Homo sapiens: one gene and its partners. The protein of the gene in region 3 purifies or fractionates together with the protein of the main gene of each other region. This does not show direct contact. Each region holds a gene or a part of one and is shown on either strand. Other genes may lie near its edges. The genes, in order: OCRL, NCAPD3, DNAJC13, ARFGEF1, MAP3K4, EDRF1 and PRMT7.

Evidence for each region.
Region 1: the proteins of DNAJC13 (region 3) and OCRL purify together in Homo sapiens (co-immunoprecipitation; one large-scale study listed by IntAct). This does not show direct contact.
Region 2: the proteins of DNAJC13 (region 3) and NCAPD3 purify together in Homo sapiens (co-immunoprecipitation; one large-scale study listed by IntAct). This does not show direct contact.
Region 4: the proteins of DNAJC13 (region 3) and ARFGEF1 purify together in Homo sapiens (affinity purification with mass spectrometry; one large-scale study listed by BioGRID and IntAct). This does not show direct contact.
Region 5: the proteins of DNAJC13 (region 3) and MAP3K4 purify together in Homo sapiens (affinity purification with mass spectrometry; one large-scale study listed by BioGRID and IntAct). This does not show direct contact.
Region 6: the proteins of DNAJC13 (region 3) and EDRF1 purify together in Homo sapiens (affinity purification with mass spectrometry, with the first as the bait; one large-scale study listed by BioGRID). This does not show direct contact.
Region 7: the proteins of DNAJC13 (region 3) and PRMT7 fractionate together in Homo sapiens (co-fractionation; one large-scale study listed by BioGRID). This does not show direct contact.

The regions. Positions count from the first base shown.
Region 1 is NC_000023.11:129,560,759-129,564,258, forward strand, and holds part of OCRL (inositol polyphosphate 5-phosphatase OCRL), read left to right. Parts: intron 1-420; coding exon 421-535; intron 536-1,625; coding exon 1,626-1,742; intron 1,743-1,840; coding exon 1,841-2,028; intron 2,029-3,500. UniProt on the Homo sapiens protein: Catalyzes the hydrolysis of the 5-position phosphate of phosphatidylinositol 4,5-bisphosphate (PtdIns(4,5)P2) and phosphatidylinositol-3,4,5-bisphosphate (PtdIns(3,4,5)P3), with the greatest catalytic activity towards PtdIns(4,5)P2.
Region 2 is NC_000011.10:134,213,968-134,217,467, reverse strand, and holds part of NCAPD3 (condensin-2 complex subunit D3), read left to right. Parts: intron 1-369; coding exon 370-532; intron 533-3,500.
Region 3 is NC_000003.12:132,424,002-132,427,501, forward strand, and holds part of DNAJC13 (dnaJ homolog subfamily C member 13), read left to right. Parts: intron 1-3,500.
Region 4 is NC_000008.11:67,221,782-67,225,281, forward strand, and holds part of ARFGEF1 (brefeldin A-inhibited guanine nucleotide-exchange protein 1), read right to left. Parts: intron 3,253-3,500; coding exon 3,122-3,252; exon of another isoform or gene 2,908-3,121; intron 1-2,907. UniProt on the Homo sapiens protein: Promotes guanine-nucleotide exchange on ARF1 and ARF3. Promotes the activation of ARF1/ARF3 through replacement of GDP with GTP. Involved in vesicular trafficking.
Region 5 is NC_000006.12:161,113,769-161,117,880, forward strand, and holds the end of MAP3K4 (mitogen-activated protein kinase kinase kinase 4), read left to right. Parts: intron 1-1,354; coding exon 1,355-1,534; intron 1,535-3,081; coding exon 3,082-3,102; 3' UTR 3,103-3,612; downstream 3,613-4,112. UniProt on the Homo sapiens protein: Component of a protein kinase signal transduction cascade. Activates the CSBP2, P38 and JNK MAPK pathways, but not the ERK pathway. Specifically phosphorylates and activates MAP2K4 and MAP2K6.
Region 6 is NC_000010.11:125,736,709-125,740,208, forward strand, and holds part of EDRF1 (erythroid differentiation-related factor 1), read left to right. Parts: intron 1-1,209; coding exon 1,210-1,281; intron 1,282-1,586; coding exon 1,587-1,737; intron 1,738-3,500. UniProt on the Homo sapiens protein: Transcription factor involved in erythroid differentiation. Involved in transcriptional activation of the globin gene.
Region 7 is NC_000016.10:68,335,019-68,338,518, forward strand, and holds part of PRMT7 (protein arginine N-methyltransferase 7), read left to right. Parts: intron 1-2,440; coding exon 2,441-2,553; intron 2,554-3,500. UniProt on the Homo sapiens protein: Arginine methyltransferase that can both catalyze the formation of omega-N monomethylarginine (MMA) and symmetrical dimethylarginine (sDMA), with a preference for the formation of MMA.

The DNA of each region.
Region 1 (3,500 bases), on a different chromosome or scaffold from region 3:
ACACGAGAGTTAACTTGCGGGTCAAATTTGTGAGAACAGAAATGAACAGATACCTAAAATGGTGTAAGGAAGCATCTAATTTTCTTGAAACCCGTAGGAATCTATATATTCTGCATAGAAACTAAGACTTGGGGTCAGTTCTAACAGTGACAGTTCCTAGGATATAAGAGCAAAGCTCTGCTGTTATCCTCTGTGGGAGGTATTTTGATTTATTTTTTGCATAGCTTATGAATGTACTTGTGGGAATTCTTTAGAAAAGAAAGCTACTTGTTCTTACTGATAACCTGGGTGAACAGAGCAGTTCTATAAAATTTATCTCTCTCCCATCTTTTTTTCATCTAATGTTTCAACATATGGGACAGGAGGTAGCCAGAGATAATTATGGGATATGTATAGATCTCATATCCCTTTTTTCCTCAGATTCCAAGAACTGGACTTGAGCACAGAAGCCTTCTTCTACTTTGAATCTGTGAAGGAACAAGAATGGTCCATGGCTGTAGAGAGAGGTTTGCATTCCAAAGCCAAGTATAAGAAAGTAAGCCGCATTTAATTATCTTTTTAAGTGTATGACTAAATAGGGCTCACCGGGAGTTATTCCATTATCTACAACTTGTTCCAAAAGAATAGTTTAATTGAATTCTTCTCTGTGTGTAATACTGGGATAGGGCAGATTGATCATTCATCCTTATTTCCTAGAAAAAAAAATCCCTAAGCTTTCTGATACTATATTTTCATTGCTTAGATAGCTTTTAGGGGAAAAAAGAATTTTATTATGCTTATATCAATACTTAGTTTGAAATAATTACATATAAGATTTAGATTACTCACTGACATGGTCAGAATTGAATGCTTTACAGAAAAGCAATATGAAACGTGGGCGCATGGTGCATGTGTTGCAATCAGAGCAAGAATAGAAGTGGTGTGGAATTTGAACGAGTTCTAAACTTGGTTTTAAGTTAAGAGGAGAGTTGACTTTAGCAAGATGGGCCAATTTGTTTGTCTTTAGAAGGTATGTGGTAAAGGCATTTAGCTACCAGAAGAGTTAATTACAGGGCTATCATACTAAGGTCTCTAAAAGAAGTAATGTGAGTAATTTTTCTCTACATCTTCTAACAGTTTATATAGGTAATAAAACTCCTGGGGATGTTATTCCTCTCATATAGGTCCCTGACTAATGTATATCTCAGACATATTTCTAGCTGTAGTTCACAAGTTAAAAATAAGTAAAAAAGATTGCTGTTTGGTTGATTTCAATTTCTTAGAAAATTAGACATCAGAAACTAGGAAGGAAAGGTGGAAGGAACAAGCTGGGATAGTGGCTTTATTATTTGAACTTTTAATGCTGCTTACTCCTGGTAGGCTAAGAAGTGATTAAAAGAATAGATCTAGAGCTGAAAGTACTCATTGTCCCTCCCAGCTTTTAACTCTTATTGGTCAGTGCCAGATTAGAGCCTCCCCAGAGAATATTAGTTTCCACTTGACGGGGTCCACTGAGAAATTAGAGGATATGAAGTCAGATTTGGGCACTAGTATATCATCTTGATGGAAAATTAGTCGTGGGACATTAGAAATGTGGCAAAGATTGGTATTAACATTAACCTTTTGTAACTCCCCGGAACTCATAGGTTCAACTGGTGCGCCTTGTTGGGATGATGCTTCTTATATTTGCCAGAAAGGATCAGTGTCGATACATTCGTGATATTGCTACAGAAACAGTTGGAACTGGAATCATGGGGAAAATGGTGAGTTACTTTGGAAATGAGCTTGATTATTATTCATGTTCATGTAAAGTTCAGTTGCTTGTTCTGTGTACTAATTGAATAATTACTCTTGCTAACAGGGAAACAAAGGTGGGGTAGCTGTGAGATTTGTATTTCACAACACCACCTTTTGCATTGTCAATTCCCATCTGGCTGCACACGTGGAGGACTTTGAGAGAAGGAATCAAGATTATAAGGACATTTGTGCGAGAATGAGTTTTGTGGTCCCAAATCAGACCCTCCCGCAGTTGAACATCATGAAACATGAGTAAGTGGTTAACTCACCTGTAGCCTTTGAGTAGTGGCTACAGGAGTTTGGATAGTGTAGAGATTAAATGTGAGATACTGTAGAGCTGTGAAGAGTGAAAGATTACCAGTGAGGGATTGGGGTCACAAAGGAGAGGGTTTTTGAGTAATAACAGAATCATTGAGGCAGAGAAATTAGACTTGATATCAGAGGAAAAGATAGTTCTATTAGTGGGGCACCTAGAATAATGCTGGAGGGTCTGTAGTTGGAGTCAGTTTTTATTGTTTTTATGATAAAATAGAAATATTCATTGCAAATGTAATAAAAGATAAAATTAGAAGTTAAATTTCCTCATTTCTTATTCTCTACCTAGCCAGTCCCTCTCTCCAAAGGAAACCATTCTTAACAGTTGGGTGTGTAGCCTTTTAGATCTGTACTGTCCAATATGACAACCAGTAGCCATATATGGCTGTTAGGTACCTGAAAGTGACTGGTCCAAATTAAGATATGCTGTATGCATAAGCTATATATTGGATTTTAAAGACTTAGGAAGAAGATGTACGATATCTTGATTTCTAAAATATTGATCACATGTTGAAATAATTTGGATATATTGAGTAAAATGAAATTTATTGATACTCACTTGTTTTTTTTCTTTTTAAATGCAGCTACTAGAAAACTTAAAATTATATTGTGAGGTGCATTATAATTCTATTAAATAGCACTATTCTAGCCTTTTGTCTATTCATATACAAACACACACATAGGTACTTGGTGTATAAGACTGTATTATTCTATTTATTGTGGATTCCTTTCCAAGCCAGTATATATAGATCTACATTATTCTTTTTAATGGCTGTGCTTATTAAAAACAGGGGCAGCAGAGAGAGGTCAGTGAAGAATGGGATTTAATAAGCATAGAAGCAGAGATGTGTTGAGGAGTAGATGTGGTGGTAGAAAATGATTAGTTTTAAAGAAATTAATATACCTAAAACCATGAAAACCCTAGAAGAAAACCTAGGCATTACCATTCAGGACATAGGCATGGGCAAGGACTTCATGTCTAAAACACCAAAAGCAATGGCAACAAAAGCCAAAATTGACAAATGGGATCTAATTCAACTAAAGAGCTTCTGCACAGCAAAAGAAACTACCATCAGAGTGAACAGGCAACCTACAAAATGGGAGAAAATTTTCGCAACCTACTCATCTGACAAAGGGCTAATATCCAGAATCTACAATGAACTCAAACAAATTTACAAGAAAAAAACAACCCCATCAAAAAGTGGGCAAAGGACATGAACAGACACTTCTCAAAAGAAGACATTTATGCAGCCAAAAAACACATGAAAAAATGCTCACCATCACTGGCCATCAGAGAAACGCAAATCAAAACCACAATGAGATACCATCTCACACCAGTTAGAATGGCAATCATTAAAAAGTCAGGAGACAACAGGTGCTGGAGAGGATGTGGAGAAATAGGAACACTT
Region 2 (3,500 bases), on a different chromosome or scaffold from region 3:
TTCCTTTTAATATAAATAGAGGGATAACTTTCCTGAATAATCACTAATATATGGTGTCCCAAAAGTCTTAGTGTAGTTTTAAGCTATAATTTCTGAAGTATATATGCTACAAACTTAACAAAAAATTCTTTTGAAAGTTTAATTATTTAAATATGTTATATACATATTTATCTTGGTAATTTTGAATAATATACCTTTAATTTTGATATTTTGTTTCAGTCCCTTTGAAGATGGTAAACATTTAGCAGTAGGAGCCAGGCTACTCTATTCCTCTTTTTGTAAGGCACCAAGAACTTACAAAAATCAAATAATAGGAAATGTTTCCATTTCTCTAATGACTGGCTTTTGTGATTTGCGGTCTCCCCACAGAGTATCTGGACCTTCTTCATTGAGAACAATGTTTCCCATAGTACACTGGTGGCATTGTTCTATCATTTTGTTCAAATAGTTCATAAGAAGAATGTCAGTGTACAGTATCGAGAATATGGCCTTCATGCCGCTGGGCTTTACTTTTTGCTACTAGAAGTACCAGGTATGTAGACCTGATATGATAGGATAAATCTTCTGTCATTTTTTTCTTTCTACAGTTTTCAATTCTTATACTTTGTTTCTTGTTTCTTCACTTATAAATGGGGCAGTGCTAACCCATGGCAGAGAGTTGTTGCGAGGAGCAAGTCTCTAAAGTACATGGCATGTTATAGGTCTTGGAAAACCTTCCCCCTTTTTTTTTTCATCCGAAGTTATGCTATCTATAAACTAATAAAAATAGTCTGAGAAGGAGTGCAAGAGTTCCACGCCCACCCTCCACCACGGCCGTCTAAAATTCTGATATTGCCCTTTCTTCTCATGATTCCTTGTCTAGACTGAGAAATACTGCTGTGGGGAGTCATTGCTTTTTACCTCTCCGATGTTGGTATTGAAAAATAGATTAAAACCATTCTAATCAAGAAAGCAGGAAAGCAGCTAGTAATACTTGAAGGAGAGCACTGACCAGGAGTCTGTTTTCGAGCACTGTTTTACTTGATTGTCAGAGCACTGAGGAGGCTGTTCCTCCTATGACAGTGAAATCCATTCTCTTCCCTACTCCAAACACAGGGTGAGAGAGAGTGGAACATAGAGATTGAGTCAGATAACCTGAAGTTCATATGGAAAAGAGAATGGCAAGATCAGTCACCTTGCTGCTTATCTTTGTTTAATTACAAATGTTTAGCAAAGGATTTATTCCATGTGATCTGGGAATGGGCAAAAAGGTCTTATATTTAAAGCCCTGAACATTGATTTGTGTTGTTGTTAATGCTCCCATCATGACTTTGGAAATGAGTAAGTTCCTAAAGGATTTTGTTGCTAAGCAGTGTCTCGGTTGTAACTAGGCCCTCTCTCAAAAAAGTAGTGGTTTTAGAAACCCAGTTTCACTCTCCTCTTGCCAGATGCAGTTTCTTCTGATTAAGGTTGAGATTTATGCCAGAGCAAAGAGGTGGCTGTTACTAATTGCGTGGGCCACTTGCAGCTTTCCAGCAAGCCGTATTCCTGCCAGTTACCTTCTGTTTTTAAATGTTTCGGGTTTATGATTGGGATGCTGTCGATACTTAACATTCGATCACAGTATATTCTTTTTCAGGATCGTTTTGGTTGTTCTGCCTCCCTTGCATTTCCATGTGAATTTTAGGATCTGTACGTGAATTTCTGCAACAATAAAAAAGCCAGCTGCGGTTTTGACAGGGATTGCATTGAAACTGTAGATGAGTTTGTGAAGTATTGCCAATTTAACAACATTAGGTCTTCTAATCCCTAGCCGCAGGATGTCTTTCCATTTATTGTAGATCTTCTTTAATTTGTTTCAATAATGCTCTATAATTTTTGGTGCGCAACTCTTGCATCTCCCCTTTAAAATTTATTCTTAAGTGTTATTTTCAATGCTAGTGTAAATGAAATTGTTTTCTTAATTTTATTTTGGTTTATTAGTACTGTATAGAAGCAAAATTGATTTTGATTATTGATCTTCTATCCTAGAACCTTGCCAAACTCATTTGTTGGTTCCAACAGGGTTTTCTTTGTGTAAGATCATGTCATCTGTGAATAGACACAGGTTTACTTCTTTCTTTCTAGTCTGGGTTCTTTCTATTTATTTTTCTTACCTATTTGCCCTGGCTAGAACCTCCAGTACAGTGTTGAATAGAAGGGGAGCGTGGGGATCCTTGTCTATTCCTGATCTTAAGGGGAAAGCATCCAGTCTTGCCTTTAGGTATGATGTTACCTGTGGGTTTCTCAGGATGGCCCTTATTAAGTTATTATTCCTAGTTTACTGAGTGCTTCATTATGAAAGGCTGTTGGATTTTGTCATTCGCTTTTCTGCACTTGTGAAGTGCTCATGTGGTTTTTGTTTCTTATTCTAATATAGTATATTACATTGGTTGATTTTCACATATTAAACCAATTTTGTATGACCTTGGTCATGGTGTATAATCCTTTTTATATGTTGTCAGAGTGTTTGCTAATATTTTGTTGAAGGTTTTTTGTCTATATTCATAAGGGATATTCTTTTTTTGAGATATTTTTGTCTGGTTTGAGTATCTGGGTATCTTGGTAATACCATTTTCATAGAATAAGTTACATAGTATTCCCTTCTCTTCTGTATTTTGGAAGATTTTGGGTTTTCTTTTTTCTTCAGATGTTTGGTAGAACCCACTAGTGAAGTCATCTGGGCCTGGAGTTTTTTGAAAGAAGTTTATGTTTGTAGAATTTCTAGTGATCTCCTCTCATGCCTGATGTTGGTGATTTGTATTTTGTTTTTTCTTGATCAATCTAGATCGAGATTTATTCATTTTACTGTTCATTTTGGAGGGCCCCCTTTTGATGTCATTAATTAAATTCTGTTGTTTGTCCCTTTCTTGTTTCATTGATTTCTGGTCTTATGTCTACGATTTCCTTTCTTCTTACTTTGGGTTTAATTTGCTCTTATTCTGACTTTTTAAGGTAGATGCTTAGATCTTTGTTCTCACATGCATTTCTTTGTTTCTAATACAAGTATTTAATACTATAAATGTCCCTCCAGGTACAGCTTCATCTGCATCCCACAAATTTCGATGATATGTTTTTACTGTTGTGCAGGCCAAAGTGATTTTCAAATTTTTCTTGTCATTACTTACATCTCTGAGTTGTTTAGTAAATTGAGTTTATTTTCCAAATATTTGAACTTTCCTGAAATCTTACTGTAATTGAGTTTTAATTGGTGGGATCAGAGAACATACTTCATATGATTATGATACTTTTAAATTATTTAGTTGTGCCTTTTTTTTTAATGGACTTAGAGTCTAATTTGGTGAATCTTCCATTTGCACTTTAACAGAATGTGTACCTTGCCTTTGTTGGATCTAGTATTCTGTAAATGTCAGTTAGGTCAAGTTGGTTACAAATGTTATTCAAGACTTACATATGCTTCCTGATGTTCTGTTTATTTGTTCTATCTGTTGTTGAGAGAGGAATGTTGGAATCTCTAAGAA
Region 3 (3,500 bases):
AAGACCTTACAGAAATAGTATAGTTTGTTCTTGCATAAGCCAGGTTATGCTTCAAAGATAAAATGAAATAGAAATTAGGTCTATAAAGTTACAATAATGTGTATAAACTAAAAATATGTAAATGATCAATAGCAATGATTTCAAAGCATTGCTTAAGTGAACATGTTTCTGGAAAGAAAGCTTTCAGGTGAGTATTTTAAGGCATTTTTAAGCTTTGGAAAGGGAAGGGTCATAGTAATACATCTTTCACAGAAAATTTGAATTTTTTTAACAACAGATAAACTTCTGTTTTGTCAGAAATACAAATTATTCCCCTCAGATGAAATGAGCATACATGTGATAGAAATAGAAGAGACAGGTCTCTTTTCAATACTTGATTTATACTGTTGAATAGAAGAGGTCAAAAAAAGTAACTGCTATGGTAAGTATGCTTGTCCCCTCCTCCCATTAAGTGTTTCTTCAGATTTAGGGGTTGCTTTTGAATTTTTCTTGCCCTGTATTTCATTAATATATACTCAGTTTGTAATAGAAAGGAATCAAGTTTTTAAAAACAATGGTGGAGATCTCATATTATTTCAGCTACCCTATGGTAGTGAAACTAGTTAAAAGTTGATTATGATGTGACAGTACAATCACTTCACTTTAAAATATCTGGGCAATTATTTGAAGATATGATTATCAGATGAAATTTGATATTACCGCTGGCTTTTTTTATTCTTCAACGACATCTATCTCTGGAGGTATCGGGTTCTTCAGTAAGTTAAGGAAGGCTAAGATGGTAGGTACTAAAATCTTTGTGATGTATTTATGGTTTGTTTTAAGATTCCTGTTGGTATCATACATATTACACATACTGATTTGTTGTTCATTTAGAAGAAAATGCTTTTACCTGTACTTGAGTCATATATTAAAATGAAGCTAAAATTTAAAAATAGGGTTAAAGTTCATATGGCAGTTTCCCCCATACACAGCACATTCTATCTAAACAGTTTAGTTGTAGCTATTTAATCTGGGTAAAAATGAACATTCTGTTAGCCATTCATATTTTTTACCATTTGTTTGAAACCAAACTAATCTAGTGCTATGATTTACTCAGATTTTGAATCCAGTTACAAACAAACCTAGATCCTCAAGAAGCCAATATAAGATATTCTATCTATTACTCTTATTAGTTATTTTTTCAAAGGGTTAGTCTTTCCATGGTTCTCCTTACTACCCCTCCCTTTTTGGTAAGATATAGCTGTAGGAAGTATTACGTTCATAAATTAGTTCCTATGATGTGAATGTCTGCTACATTTTAAGTGTGGTTTTGGAATGTAGCATTGTTTCTGTTGTAGGAGAGTTTGATCAGAAAAGGCAAACTCCACAATTTTCACCCAACATATTGTAAACATTTTCACCTACAGCCAGGTTGAAAGAACTTTACATTAGATACCCACATGCCCACCTAAAGGTTTTTACATTAACATTTTACTGTACTTGCTTTATCACAGATCTGTCCATCTTTCCATCAATCCATCTTATTTTTTATGCATTTCAAAACAAATTCACATTTTTAGTTATTGAGGGCAGAGCTAATGAAAGTAAGTTCCGTTCTTGCATTTTACAGACTCAAAATGGGAAAATCAGTAGCTTACCTGTTCTCTGCAAGTTGTCATATTTGTGTAAAAATTACTTCCAGTTGATGATGCTAAATACGTGCTTTAAACAGGTGACTAGCCTGATTAATGCCAATCCTTCTTTCACTAGTGTATTTTTTTCTAAGTGTATTCATTCATCCCTAGTTAAATGAGTGTTCTGCTTGTGTTTTTGCTTAACACAAGCCATGTGTATATACTTAATTTTGCTGTGTGTGTAAATTTTTTTGCTTATAGCTTGACCGTAATTGGCTTGAGTGTCTGTGGTGTTGAGTCCCTTCATCTTGCTTTTGTTCTTAGTGTCAACTTGATGTAGGCTTCTTCTCACTGGACTCCCAAATCCTGTGGTTTTCTGTCAAAATTATGTGTCTTCTAAAAGATCATTCTCATTTTAACCATAAATGATCTTAAATGGTTTGCCAGTATTACTGCCAGTAATAAATTAGAGAATGCAAGAATATTGTGTTGTTCGAAAGCATGATGCAGTAGTATTCATTGAGAGAGGTGAATCTAGCCAAAATGCCTGTGTTGCCCTGAATTTGACTTTTTAACCCATAGGACAGTTCTATAAAAAGAACAAACAGAAGTTTCTTTGGTGGTGTAATTTAGGATATAGCATGAAAACAAGTGAAGCTGACTCGCAAAAATTGGAGATGCTTTCAATGCAATTTAATTACAAAAGGCATGTAAATTTGATTTTTCCTCATCAGAAAGAATCATGGGTCTTTGAGAATTTGAAATATGGAACACAATTGCAGGAATGAAGGAGATGAAATTTAAGTGACGTTAGTTTGAGCAGATAAATTCCTGCTATTTCGAATAGCCTCTAAACAACTGGCAGAATGGCAAATGCTAGTGATACAGCTGCTACCAAGATCTCATTCAAGATCCCATTTAACTGTTTACATTTTTTAGTTGGACAGTTTGTGGTTGTTGATAGCATGTGCTTATATTTGACTGTTACTGATATTACCTGCTTGATACTTGAGCTTCTGATACTAGAAATTTTACAGATTTTTTTCATCATAAATAGTGGAAATCAATGGTTGCTTAAGAGTTTTTGCCTATAAGTGATGATTTTTTTGAATCACTTTTAGAGCTTATTAATGTACAGAGGAAATATTGACTGCAGATTAAATTTATTTTGTGAAGTTTTTTTTTTCTTGAAAGTTTCTCAAGCCATAGTTAATTTGTAGCCATCAAACATAAATTTAAAAATATTAGGTTGGATACATGTAAGGAAACAGTTCTAACAACTGAAATTTCAAATACCTAAGTGGGGAATATTAAAAATGTAGTAAATAAGATTGACTTGTAATAGTATTTTGTAGGAATAAAGTTGAAATAAAAGACAAGCTTAAGTGTTGGGTTATAGTTGACAAGATGATTTTTAAAAATTTCATCTATCCTGATTATCTTGGTGTTTATATATACATATGTGTGTGTGTGTGTGTGTGTGTGTGTGCACGTGTGTGTGTGTGTATATATATATATATTTTTTTTTTTTTTTTGAGACAGGGTCTGACTCTGTCTCCCAGGCTCGAGTGCAGTGGCAAGATGAGGGCTCGCTCACTGCAGCCTCAGCCTCCCAGGCTCAAGTGGTCCTCTGACCTCAGCCCCCCAAGTAGCTGGGACTATAGGCCTGTGCCATGACACCCAGCTAATTTTTTGTATTTTTAGTAGAGACAGGGTTTTGCCATGTTGCCTGGGCTGGTCTTGAACTCCTGGACTCAAGCGATCTGCCTGCATTGGCCTCCCAAAGTGCTGGGACTACAGGCGTGAGCCATCGCACCCGGCAATATTTTTTTCTTTTTAAAAACGTTTTATGGGAAACATAAATTGTAACAATAAAATAATAATGAC
Region 4 (3,500 bases), on a different chromosome or scaffold from region 3:
GCCCTATATGGGTTTTTGTTGTTGCTTTTTTTTTTCTTTCTTTTTTTTTTGAGATGGAGTCTTGCTCTGTCGCCCAGGCTGGAGTGCAGTGGCATGATCTCTGCTCACTGCAAGCTCCACCTCCCAGGTTCAAGCCATTTTCCTGCCTCAGCCTCCCAAGTAGCTGGGACTACAGGTGCCCACCACCACGCCCGGCTAATTTTTGGTATTTTTAGTAGAGACGGGGTTTCACTGTGTTAGCCAGGATGGTCTCGATCTCCTTTCCTCGTGATCCGCCCACCTTGGCCTCCCAAAGTGCTGGGATTACAGGCGTGAGCCACCATGCATGCCCAGCCTACAGGTTTTATCTTTTATGCCATGTTTTTACTGTACCTTTTCCATGCATATATATATATATACACATATATATATATATATATATATACACACACATATATATATATGTATATGTATGTATGTATGTATGTATGTATGTATGTATGTATGTATTTTTTTTTTTTTTGAGACAGAGTCTTATACTGTCACCCTGGCTGGAGTGCAGTGGTGCCATCTTGGCTCACTGCAACCTCCGCCTCCTGGGTTCAAACAATTCTCATGCCTCACCTTCCCAAGTAGCTGGGATTACAGGTGTGCACCACCACACCCGGCTAATTTTTGTATTTGTATTTTTTAATTTTTATTTTTATTTTGAGACAGAGTCTCACTCTGTTGCCTGGGCTGGAGTAGAGTGGCACTCTCAGCTCACTGCAACCTCTACCTCCCAGGTTCAAGCGATTCTCCTGCCTCAGCCTCCTAAGTAGCTGCGATTACAGGTGCGCACCACCACGCCTCGCTAATTTTTGTATTTTTAGTAGAGAAGGGGTTTCACCACGTTGTCCAGGATGGTCTTGAACTCCTGACCTCAGATGATCCGCCCACCTGGGCCTCCCAAAGTGCTGGGATTATAGGTATGGCCACCATGCCTGGCCAAATTTTTGTATTTTTAGTAGAGATGGGGTTTCACCAGGTTGGCCAGGCTGGTCTCAAACTCCTGACATCAGGTGATCTGCCCACCTTGGCCTCCCAAAATGCTGAGATTACAGGCGTGAGCCACTGCACCCAGCCTGTTTAGATATGTTTAGATACACAAACACCACCGTATTAACAGCTGCCTACAGTACAGTAACATGCTGTGCAGGTTGTACCCAAGGAGCAATAGGCTATGCCATCTAGATTTGTGTAAGTACATGCTATGATGTTCACACAATGCTGAAATTGCCTACTAATGCATTGCAGAGAACATACTCCTGTCATTAAATGATGCCTGACTATATTTGGGACTTTAATTTTCGGTATTTATCCCCAAATCTAGAGAATTTTGGAAGAATTAAGTAAGAATGCACACAAGAAATTCTTTCTACACAGTGTTATACCAATTATAGTGCTGCACTATTTGTTGTTGTTAAAGACAGAGAGTCTCAATTTGTTGCCTAGGCTGGAGTACAGTGGTGTGATCAGGGCTCACCATAGCCCCAACCTCCTGTGCTTAGGCAATCCCGCCTCAGCCTCATGAGCAGCAGGAACTAGAGGCATGACCACCATGCCTAGTTAACTTTTTGTTCAAAGAGATGGGGTCTCACTATGTTGCCTAGGTTGGTTTCAAACAATCCTCCCACCTTGACATCCCAAAGTGCTGGGATTACAGATGTGAGCCATGGCATCCGGCCCACATTTTAAGATGGAAGCTAAATAGCAACCCATACATATCCTGGGATGAGGTAGGAAAATCAAAGGCCATCACTGAACAAAGTTTACTGATCTTTTCTCTCTCCTTTACTAACTAGAACACACACAACCTCTTTAACAACTGGAATCTACCCATAATCTGAACATGGAATATGGTGAGAAATAAGGTATCACAGTGCCAAGCAACAGAAGGCTAAGAAAGCAGGTGGATCCTCCATCAAACAGACTTCTACAAATAAATAAAGGGTGAGGGGAGAGGGTGCTGAGTTTTCATGACCTGCTAGTCATGATATGTCAGCCGCTCCACTGAGGCAGGTGGACAGCTGAAATGGGGCTATCTTGAATTTTAACAAGTTCCTAACAGGTCCACTGATAAACAATCCACCATGTCTAAATATAAAATAAAATGTTTTTCTATAGTGCTCTCATAATTAAAATCCCTAAGGGTTAAGTCCTATTTTGATTATCTATTTCATACGAATTTCTGTTGTAACAAATAATACTATAAAAATGAAAAATTTCTTGGGATATAAGTCAAATTTAACCTTGGTGGGGGATGGGGGTGGTTCTGGCATAAGGTGAGAAAAGAGAGATTCATTCTGTGCTACCTTTAGAAATTCAAAAAATTCGATAAAGTTACACATCCAAATAACAGAAGATTCTTCCAAATAAGATGGAAAGATTCCTAAAAGATTTTGTTTACCATAAAATTGAACTCACGGTGGGTTTAGAGGTTGACAGATATTAGGACACACAAGCTGGCCATTTCAATGTGGCAAAGTACAGGGTAAAAAAACTACTATGGGAATCATGTGAGCCGTGACCTAAGAACAGTGTGTTAGCATTTGGCCAGTTACATAATACCCATAATAGTTCCTTTACAGATTGACTATATGTTCATAATGATCTTTTATTGGCAATATACTTTTGAAAGAGTTCTATTTGAATAGCTCTATATTATTCCAAACTATGTTACTGACCAGGTTACAAAAAGAAATGGTTCTTCACCTAAAACCCAGCAAGGATGTGCAGTTAAAAATTCTTCTATCATTCATCAGGAAATAAAATAAATTTTGCCACTAACTTCAACTTATTATTGGAAACAAATATATGAAAAGACGGAATGTTTAAAGGATTAAATTAACTTAGAAGCTAAAATCAAATGGAGGCTATAATCAAATATTTTAAAAATAATGTAGTATTTCCATTTTTATTTTGCTCTAGTTAATATTTTTAAATCATATTAACATATTTTAAAATATACCTAATAATTAATATATTTGACAAAACACTTGATTTTATGGTCTTTAACTGTGAGATTGTGTTTATAAAGAAGAGTTAATTTGATTAAAGTCAAAATAAATCCAAAATTTTAATTACAAATATAGATTGTTACCTGGTTCTTACATCTAATTTGCATCTATTGATGATACAGGATAACTCAAAGAGAATTGGGAACCATCCTCTCACCCACACCCTGTCTTCAGGTGCTACGTTCATATCATCGCTTGTGTATTCCTTGAAAGCCTTCAAGAAAAAAGGTAGGGTTATTAAAGGCAAAACATAACACCCATACATTCAGTATACTAACTTCTCAAAAAATAATTTAAATGCTTCACAAATAACCAGTGAGCAATTTAATAAAAAATAATTTATAAAAAATGGACACTATAACTGCCTACAATTTTAGTATATGTGCCACTGAAATAGGCAAAACATAACTGCCTATAAAGAGCTCTGGACTAGAATCCAAAAGTTAGCTTCACTTTCAACTG
Region 5 (4,112 bases), on a different chromosome or scaffold from region 3:
TTTTACTTAGCATATGAGTGACTTTTTTTTTTTTTTTTTTTTTTTTTGAGATGGAGTCTCGCTCTGTCGCCAGGCAGGAGTGCAAGTGGCATGATCTCGGCTCACTGCAACCTCCGCCTCCCGGGTTCAAGCAATTCTTCTGCCTCAGCCTCCCAAGTAGCTGGGATTACAGGCACCTGCCACCATGCCTGGCTAAGTTTTGTACTTTGGTAGAGACAGGGTTTCACTGTGTTGGCCAGGCTGGTCTCGAACTCCTGACCTCATGATCCGCCTGCCTCAGCCTCCCGAAGTGCTGAGTGACATTTTTAAAGATTGAGAATACTATCTTTTAGAGAGTATATAAAGAAACACACATGTTTTGGACAGAAATTCCATGTGGTAGGGCTGCTCCGGAGACATTTCCAATCTCTATCAAAATTTTAAATGTGCATAGCACTTAAACCAAGAAGTTTTCTGCTTCTGAAAATGTATCTTATGATGATAATATTAATGAGCAGTTATACAAATGTAAAAAGACACGCATGAACTGCACATGGTAGCTTACCGTACACATACAGTATTATAGCAAAAAAGTTAGAAACCTTCATTTCTAAGTTAAAAGTTAGTGTTAAGTTACTAGTAGGAAATCAGTTAATTATAATGTAGCTATGCCTTGCAGCTGCTGAAACAGATCACATATAAGTGCTCAGTAAATATTAGCTAGCATTATTTCTATTAGCATTAAAATAGAAAGGCAGTTGTGATATCTGTGTTATTCCAGTAAAGCCACACATAAAAGAACAGGTTCTCATATTGAAGAATACATATTGGCAATGACGAAACAATAGTTTAGAAATTAGAATGCCATACACACTTAGTTCCTTCCCCTGTGAATCTCATTTTTCATAGGATCATAATGAAATAAGCTTTGCACTAATGCAATTTTTATTTTTCAATAAGGTAGCATATTAACCATCCCTATAAGAGAATTGGGTTTTATAGACTTTTTTATGTCATTTTATATATTTTTTAGTTGCATGATGATGGCTTCTAGATACTGTTGGACTAAATAGTGCACCCCAAATGGAGTAGGCAAACTATGCTGGCCACCTGTTTTATAAATAAAGTTTTGTTGGAACAGTCATATTCATTTATGTGTTGTCCATAGCTGCTACCATGCTGCCATGAGATTAGTGAATAGTTGTGATAGAGATCATATGGCCTGTCAACCTAAAATATTGTTTGGCCCTTTCAGTAAAAATTTGCTGTCCCCTGATATATATTAATGATGAGATGCTTAAAAACAGACTGAACATTTGCGTTGTTTGTGGCTGTGTAATATTAAAATCTGATTTTTTAAAAACATCTTTTTTAGAGGCCTTGGCATGAGTATGAGCACAACTTTCAAATTATGTATAAAGTGGGGATGGGACATAAGCCACCAATCCCTGAAAGATTAAGCCCTGAAGGAAAGGACTTCCTTTCTCACTGCCTTGAGAGTGACCCAAAGATGAGATGGACCGCCAGCCAGCTCCTCGACCATTCGTTTGTCAAGGTTTGGCAGATTACTGGATAGTCTTTTTCATGTTTAAGTGTTTAAGTTCTGTTTTGCATCAAGACGTTAATGAAATTTTGAAACTTTAAAGTAGCTATATCTGAAGTGGAAAGGAACTAAATGTATTATTATGCCAGGGATTTTTGTATGTGTTTTTTCATTTGGAAAATGTTCATTGAGGTTCTTCCACTTGATCTGTTTTGATGGTGCATTTAAGATACACCAGAGACAGTAAAATGGACTTTTAGATGGGACTGGATGAAAGAGTTTCCACTCTTGAGAGTGTATAGTCTACTTGGAGGGTCAAGACGGTAATGACTAATCATTATACTGAGAGCTGTGATAATGGTATATAAGGTTACTCAGAAGAGGAATTTAATTAAGTCAGCCAATCTCAGTTCTTTTTTCTCTAGAATGAGGTACCTTAGTTGTTTAAGAGCCACAGCCAGGTCAGAAGTGGGGGAGGGGGCATGGAAGACAAAGTAAAGAAACTTGGAAACGCTCACCCTTCCGGGAGAGTGGGATGGTCACAGAGCCCTGTGTAGGTAGATCCTGGTGAACACAGGATGTGGACAAGGGCAGGAAGATAAGGCTAGAACAGTAACCAGGAGCAACATGAAGGAGTTTCCATTTTATTATAAACATAAATGATGACATAGAGTTTTAGAAAGATCACTCTAGAGGCAAAGGAATTGAGAAGGTTCTGATACAGCCAAGGGGTTGGGAGAGGGCGTTCCGGGTGAGTGAACAGCGGCATTTAAGAGTTAGAGTGCCGTGGCTGACCCCTGATTGGATGTGAAAGGTGAGTGAGGGGAGGAGTCTAGAGTGGCTCCCAGGTTTCTGGTTTGTGTCATCAGGTCACAGACTCTATTTGCCAGGGTAGGGAAAGAAGCAGCTGGGTGAGGGGTGGGTCGGGAGGTGGTGGGTCCTCTTTGGTGGATGAAGCTTGGGGTACATTTGGAGCATCTGCTTGGAGATTTCACATGGGCATTTGGATACCTGGGGCTGGCACTCAAGAGGGATTTTGGGTAGGGCACAGGTGTGGGAGACAGAAGTATTGCTGGGAGGGTCCACAGAGGACAAGGGGATGAGAACAGAGCCCTGGAGAAAAGAGCCTTGCAAGGGCCCTGCAGGAGAGAGTCCCTGGGAAAGGAAAGGAAGGGGCAGAAGAGTGGGGTGATGCTCTTATTGGTAAGTGGGAGTAAGGGGCAAGCAGCAGGATCAGCTATGGAGACATTAGGGATTTGTAATTAAATAACAATTTATGTCTTAGTTATGAAGTGCATAACAATTTATATTGACCTGAGAGTGCATATAGGCGTTTTAGAAAATGCTTTCATTAGTCAGTTCCCAGGCTTAACTTTAGAGCAGTAACTTACCTCTGCCATTGTTCATTACATTTCTTAAGCCTTGCCCTCTGTGCCCAGTACAGTGCTGGGAGCATCAGGATGAGTGGATGGGGCCTTCCCCGTAAGACTCATACTGCGCGTATGCACAAGCACACACCTGGCTCTGCAAGAGCTCAGCTCTCTCCTGCTTCCTCACAGGTTTGCACAGATGAAGAATGAAGCCTAGTAGAATATGGACTTGGAAAATTCTCTTAATCACTACTGTATGTAATATTTACATAAAGACTGTGCTGAGAAGCAGTATAAGCCTTTTTAACCTTCCAAGACTGAAGACTGCACAGGTGACAAGCGTCACTTCTCCTGCTGCTCCTGTTTGTCTGATGTGGCAAAAGGCCCTCTGGAGGGCTGGTGGCCACGAGGTTAAAGAAGCTGCATGTTAAGTGCCATTACTACTGTACACGGACCATCGCCTCTGTCTCCTCCGTGTCTCGCGCGACTGAGAACCGTGACATCAGCGTAGTGTTTTGACCTTTCTAGGTTCAAAAGAAGTTGTAGTGTTATCAGGCGTCCCATACCTTGTTTTTAATCTCCTGTTTGTTGAGTGCACTGACTGTGAAACCTTTACCTTTTTTGTTGTTGTTGGCAAGCTGCAGGTTTGTAATGCAAAAGGCTGATTACTGAAATTTAAGAAAAAGGTTCTTTTTTCAATAAATGGTTTATTTTAGGAAAGCTCAGTTATATTGTCTTTTAATGGTTAACACTTATGAGCCAACGCAGTATGATACAGAAGTCTGTCATTTTCACTCATCTGTTCCTCAAAAGGAGGAGCACAATCACGTGTGCTAAAGATGGTCACTGGGTTCGGCGTCTCTTTAGGATCGCCTCGCTGAAAAGCAAAGGAAATAAATGAAGCAACACTAATGACGTAAGGTGGTTCCTTTTAAGTAGTTTCTATTAACCAGCAAGTTTATAACAGATACAAGTTTAAGCCTTGTTATCACATGTTGGGAGTTCACTTTATTTTTAAACCAAGATGTTTAGGTGCTAGGTCAGTGTAATTACTGCTGAATGATCTGATGAGAAAGCATCTTTTTCAGAAGTAAACATTTCAGCATTTAGCTTTCCAAAACAGCCCAAATTATACATCATTGGTGTTTTTTTTGTTTTTGTTTTTGCTATTAAATTTTTTAAAAAGATTGACCATAGAGCTTCCTGAAATCTTTTTGGAA
Region 6 (3,500 bases), on a different chromosome or scaffold from region 3:
TCTCTCAAAAGCATCAAGATTATGCTCATTGGAGGGTCTTTGTATTTGCTGTTGCTTCTGCTTGGAATGTACCTACCCTAGGTCTGTTCATGGCTGCCTTTTTTAAGGCTTAAGTCTTGACTGAAATGTTGCCTCTTCAGGGAGATGTTCCCTGACCACTCTGGCCAAAGCATGCTCTACTTTTTTGTCCTTCAAGGAGCCTATCTGTTCCTGAAGTTCTTAATGTTTGTCTTGCTTCACTAGAACGTAAGCTCCCTGCAGGTACAGACCCTCTATCTCCCATGTCTAGAACACATTATGGGTGCTCAGTAAATATTTGACTAAATGACTGCAGGAAAAAGTCATTAACTGTCCATCTAAATTTTAGTTCACTTTCAGCTTGAACTTCCACAGTGGAGTGAAAAAATGTTCTGGTTATAATCATTGATTGCAAAAGTTACATGTATCTGGAAAACTGCATTGTAACACTAGGCCATGGACTTACGGGGCAATTAGGTAATAATTAAAGATGTAATGAGTTAGTGTCACTATTTTTCACAGATAGCACTTTCTGTTCCGTATCTGAAGCACTCAAAAAATGCAGTCTTAGTATTCATATAAACATGTCTTTAGTTAGCCTTTCCTTATCCTCATTGAATGACTTTGTGGTATGGACAGTCAGCATGAGCTCCAGGGTCCCAGCTCCCCACTCACTCACCGTGTCCTCAGACAAATTGCTAAACTGTCTGTGCATGCTTCTCTTCTGTGCAATGAGAACAGTAATTCCAACCCCACGGGATTCAGCGAAATGAAATGCTTCACAGAAGCCCCTACACATAATATCCTTCATAGTTGGAGGTTGCTAGCTGCTTTTGCTCCTTAATTAAGCAAATAAATTAAACAACGAGAATATTGGTGATACTTGTTATTTCTAAATTGACGCTAATTGTTAATTGTGTTTTGTCCAGTATCGGTGCTAATTATGAGTGGAGCTGACCTATTAGATGATGTCTATATTTGTCTAAAACATTACTACTCTAGTTCTTGCTTTTTTGTCATAATAGAATTGTATTTAAAATTGTAAGTACTTAAAGCAACATATATGTTGTAGGATCTTTTTAAGCAAGATTTTTGTTGATAATGCTTACAGTAATTTAATCTTCAACAAAAACAATATGTTGACCTTAATACATTGGTAGTGTATTAATAATTTTATGTTTGTTCCTCAAGCCCAGTTGTGCATTTCCAGTTTGCCATGACACAGAAGAGCGCTGTAGACTTGTGCTTAGCTATGTTCTAGAGGTAAGTTTAAGTTTAGTCTTCACTTTTTTCGTAAAGTTTGTACTTGATTATGCAAATTACACTTGTTTGTTGGTATCTAAATGTTATTCTGAATTGTGTTCTGCTGCGATTTTTTTTTCCTTAAGCATAAAGTGAAAATCAGATTTGTTTTTCCCAAATCTTTCAGATCAAACATAGTTTTTGAAAGTCTGTTTGTGAGATGGAAATTTTCCTAAACGTATTCAGTAGTCCAGATACTGTCTTATATTTAGTTTTCAGTTGACCTGAAGTTAGATAGATAGTGAATGCTTTTCCTTTTTTTGCAGGGTTTAAAATCTGTCGATAGCAGCATCAAAAAAGAAAGCGACCTTCCAGCAGCTGACCCCAGCACTCCAATCCCGTTAAAATATGAAGATGAATCCTCAAGAGGGGGTCCCGAGGGGCTAGAGAAGCAGATGGCCTTGTTTTTGGACAAAAGTAAGTTGAATTGATGTGCAAATAAGGCCTTCAATAGAATAATACACTGGTTCTTTATCAACAGCAGACTTATGTCAATTAAGGCATTAATTGAAAGGCATTGAGAAAAAGATATCCTGTGAACTGGAATTAGGGGTAGTATTCTTTCATTTGAAATATAAAAAGGATAATTTTGATGTTTCATGGACATTTCTAATAAGAGCATAAGGAGCCTGCATCTTCCTGTTACCCACAGTGGGGAACTAATGCTTCAGCCTGGTGGAGTTCTCGCTGGATCGTGTAGGAGCCACAGACTTAGCCAGACTGCCTAACTTCATATCTTGGCTTTGCGAGGGCAAGTTGCTCCACTTCTTTGAGTCACTTTTTATCTCTTTCAAAATGGAGACGATAATAATGGTTTCTTTAAAGGGTTGTTAAATGATTAAATGATTAATATATGTAAAGTGCTCAGAACAGTGTACATAATAAGCACTATAGAAGTGTAGGCTGTTGTTACTGCACAGTACTTGAATAAGCTACAAATGTCACTTTTAAATTATCTAGTTCTTCAGGAATATAACATCATGAAGAATATATGGACTTCGAAGCAGAAGTTGTGAATTTCTTATTTTAACCTAAGTTGTATTTCTTTTTCCAACCTTATTTCTTTCCCCCTTTTAAATCAGTTTCAATTGTTTAAAAAAAAAAAAAGTGTAGAAAGCCTGTATGTTTGAAGTACATCTGAATCATAGTGGAAGCGCTTTCTGGACCCTTCTTCTTTTCCTGAACAAACATGGTGGAGGTAGGAGAGGAATAGATTTATTTCCCCAGCATTTATATAGTGCTGCTGGTATGCCAGGCTTCGGCCTACAGGCAGTAAGGAGATCACACCAGGACTTTTGCCATTCTTTTTTTCTGAAATGCCTTTTCTGTCTCCTTCTCCATCTCCCCTGTTGAAAATCCTGCTCAAGCTCAGAATCTCCATGTTTCCCTCTGTTCTCCATCAGAATTACTTGATTCTCTTACCACTTTGTCCTGTGAGCCTGCCTTATGTCAGAGTTCCAGCATTAAATGGTTTTACACACACATGCACACACACGGTTGTGAACAAGAACTTCATCTTAATTTTAGTTTCTCACAATGCCTCTTACTCACAGATGATGCTTATATCAGCAGAGGAAAAAAATCCATACACACATTAAACCATAATGAAGACTAAGTACCTTTCATTGCCTTGAAAGACTTGTGTTCTAGCTGATTAAAAAATGAGAAACCTTCAGGCTGGGGGAAGGGGTGGGTGTTTTTGTTATTTGCAGAGCAAAATTTTCCACAGTATTTTGTTCTTTGTCTGTTAATTACACTTAACATATTTTGTTGTGGTTTATGTTATCAAGGATAGAGGCCATATAACTTCATGTCACAGTTTCCAGTGCCTGGCACAGTACTTGGCAGAAAAATGATCATTTGTTGAGTAAAGAAGGTAGCGATGGGCTGGACTTTAAATAAAGAGTATTCCTTGTAGAGGAAACAGTAAACTAAGATGGGAGATAGGAAAAACAGGCATGTTTATAGGTGACAAGCAGTAACTTAACATTGGCTGATGGGTAGTAGGATGGACAAGTAGGAAGTGAGACTGAGAAACATGCAACTAGCTAAGTGGGGAGAAGCCGTTTTCATGTTTGAGGACAGGCTTTCACGCTGATCTAAGCTGTGCTTTAGGAAGGTAAACTTTGACAGGTTGACACATAGACTGGAAAAAGGAGACAGGTGTCACTCATGAGGTT
Region 7 (3,500 bases), on a different chromosome or scaffold from region 3:
ACTCCTGGCCTCAAGTGATCAGCCCAGCTTGGCCTCTCAAAGTGCTGGAATTACAGGTGTGAGTCACTGTGCCTGGCTCTTGATTTTTATTTTAATGAAGCAATTTGGACTATAAAGCATTTTAAGTTATATAATTGGTTTAAACATTCAGGAGATAGAATTGGCAGAGTGGGTGATCAGTGGGTTGTAGGGTGACAGAAATCAATAATTTATCTAATGTGTGTTGACTGTTACGGGGCACTAGACCTTGTGGGTGCTGGGGTACAGTAGTGGACAGGCAGTCAGCGGTCCTGCTGTCCTGGAACTAGTAAATGATGCCCAGATTCCTGGACTATGTGACTCATTGATTGATTGAGGCAGAAACCCTGGAGGGAGGAGCAGGCGTGTTAGCTGGGGTGGGTGGGATGAGTTTTGGACAGTGTATTCCAGTTGGAGTTTGATGTGACATCAGAGAGGATGGGCAGGGCTTCTCGGGAGGGTGGTCTCTGTGGCAGAAGACAGAAGTTTCTTCTTAAGCTCCTCCACGTGATACTGTCATGGAGCACAGGTGAGCTTCATAGGAAGTGTGCTTTTTTTTTTTTATCTTCATCATCCCGACCACCACCACATGAGACAGAGCCCATTCACCCGTTTTACTGATGAGGCAACTGATGGTCAGAACGGAGGGCTCAGGGATAGGAAGTGAGATCCAGGCCAGGCTCCAGCCTCGAGCTCGAGGTTCACGCTGTCTCTGTTGTGCTCTTCTATCAGCTGCTCTCTTTCTTTTTTTTTTTTTTTTGAAATGGAGTCTCACTCTGGCCCAGATTAGAGTGCAGTGGCGTGATCTCGGCTCACTGCAACCTCTGCCTCCCAGGTTTAAGTGATTCTCCTGCCTCAGCCTCTCAAGTAGCTGGGATTACAGGCACCCATCACCACGCCTGGCTAATTTTTGTATTCTTAGTAGAGACAGGGTTTCACCACGTTGGCCAGGTTGGTTTCAAACTTCTGACCTCAGGTGATCTGCCCATCTCAGCCTCCCAAAGTGCTGGGATTACAGGCGGGAGCCACCGCGCCCGGCCCCTGTCAGCTGCTTTCATGCTTCTCTTTTCCTTGTGTCATCTGTGAGACTTGTGCTCTGTGTAGGGGAAATGAGTGGGCTTTGTCAGATTATAATTCATGAGGCATTAAAAGTGTTTACAGTTAATTCTCCCTGATGAATAGCCCCTTCCAAAGTCTATTTTGGCTCTTGGCTCATTAAAAATTATAATTGTAGAAGTAGCAGTACATTACTGAGGTTTAGAAAACAGTTAACAGAAGATCCCTCCCAAATCCTACTCTTCTCTAAAATCCTACTGTCCTAAAACAACTGTTATTTAAGAGATTGTTTGGTGACAAGGCGCTTTCATTAAGGGAATTTGCCATAGTGATCTGGGGATTCTAAGTCATGGATCTCAATTTTGGCTGCCAGAGCCTAACTCACAGTAGCTGGAAGATCATCAGAGAACCTTGTTGTCTTGCTTTGGCTTTCCCTCCCTCTCCCTGCAACCTAGAAGTATTTGACATACCAGCATTCTGTTTTTGCTTTTCAAATAATTTTTCTAATTTAGTGGTTAATAGTTTAATTGTTAATTTATATCTCTCTAATTGCTAATAGGGATGAAAAAGTTTTCATAAGTTTGATTTCTGTTTTGAATTTTCTGTTTATATTTTTACCTGGTTTCTTTTTGGGTGTGTGTTTTTTTTGTTTGTTTGAGACAGAGTCTCACTCTGTCGCGCAGGCTGGATCACTCTGTCGCGCAGGCTGGAGTACAGTGGCACAATTTCGGCTCACTGCAACCTCTGCCTCCCAGGTTCAAGTGATTCTCATGCCTCAGCCTCCTGGGTAGCTGGGGTTACAGGCGTGTGCCATCACACCTGGCTAATTTTTGTATTTTTAGTAGAGATGGGGTTTCGCCATGATGGCCAGGCTGGTCTTGAACTCCTGGCTTCAAGTGATCCTCCTGCCTTGGCCTCCCAAAGTGCTAGGATTACAGGCGTGAGCCACCATGCCTGGCTAATTTTTGTATTTTTTGTGGAAATGGGGTTTTGTCATGTTTCCCAGGCTGATCTCAAACTCCTGAACTCAATCCATTGGGTATTTATAGTTTTCTTATCATTTTTTGCAGTCTCCCTCCCAATATTAAGCATACAGAATAGCTGTAAGAGCAGTACAGTAAACACTTATGATCCCTTACCCTAGATTTATCAATTAGCGTTTTGTCATACATTTACATATGGATTTTTTTTTTTTCCTGAACCATTGGCAAGTCAGTTGCAGACATCCTGACACTTCTGAATACCTCAGCATGTATATGTGCTTTTAGCGTGATGGCCCCTTAACCACTTATCTTTCCCATATTTGCTGTAAATATTTTTCCTAGTCTGTTGCTTATGTCCAACTCTGTTTTCTTGTGTTTTTCAGAGGGTGACATGCCATGCCGTGCCAACATCCTGGTCACAGAGTTGTTTGACACAGAGCTGATCGGGGAGGGGGCGCTGCCCTCCTATGAGCACGCACACAGGCATCTCGTGGAGGTAGTAGACGGAGGGCTCCCTCAGACGTGTCTGTGGTCTCAGCCAGCTCACATAGCACTCACTCATGCACCGTGTCCCACACAGCCCAAGCCCTCAGCACCTCTGATACACCTGGGACACCCCTCCATTCCTGGGGGGGCTCTGGTTCTCCTCACTTAAAACTTTCATGTCCCTTGAATGCCAAATCTTAATAGGTTAGAGTTGAAAAGCAAGAAACTATATTCAAATTCAGTTAAGTTCAGCAAATATTCTCAGGAAGGCGATGCTTGAGCTGTCAGTCTTGAGAAGTGATCAGGTGTTGGCCTGGCAGATGGAATATTTCTGGTAGAGGAGAGCAGCACGTGCTAGACGTGAGACTGAATCGGTGCGGTGGCTCCGGAGCCTGCTTTGGATTTTGTGCTGTGTGGGAGGCAGGAGAGATGGGCTTAGCAACTGAGGCTAGAGAGCTGGGCAGGGGCTAGATGGAGTGGGGTTTGGGGGCCATGCCCAGAGGGTAGCTGTCATTAGAAGGTGGGGTGGCATCACAGGAGGGTTTGAAGCAGAGGATTGACAGCAGACTTATGCAGGCAGATGTGTGGAGGGCAGTTGGGGTATAGGGCTGGAGGTTGCGGGTGGGTTAAAAGGCTGTGGAATCGTCCAGACGCTGTGGTACAGTGGGCCTCAGCTAAGGCTGTAGACAGAGGCCTGATAGGTGGTCCCAGGAGTTGGTGGTCCCTTAGGTGTAGAGATATCGATGCTAGGGTTTGGGCACCTGGATTGGATGGTGGTGCTTCCTGTTGACGGGGAGTGCAGGAAGAGGGGTAGCCTTGGGAAGGTTGGGAAGTGGTGAGGGCGATTCTTCTGGTTTACACAGAGTTTGAGCTCTCTAAAGGTCAGCCAAGCAAAGAGGCCCAGAGATGCATGGATTTACTCAGTGAAGAGGGCATGGTTGAGGTCACTGTGGAGAG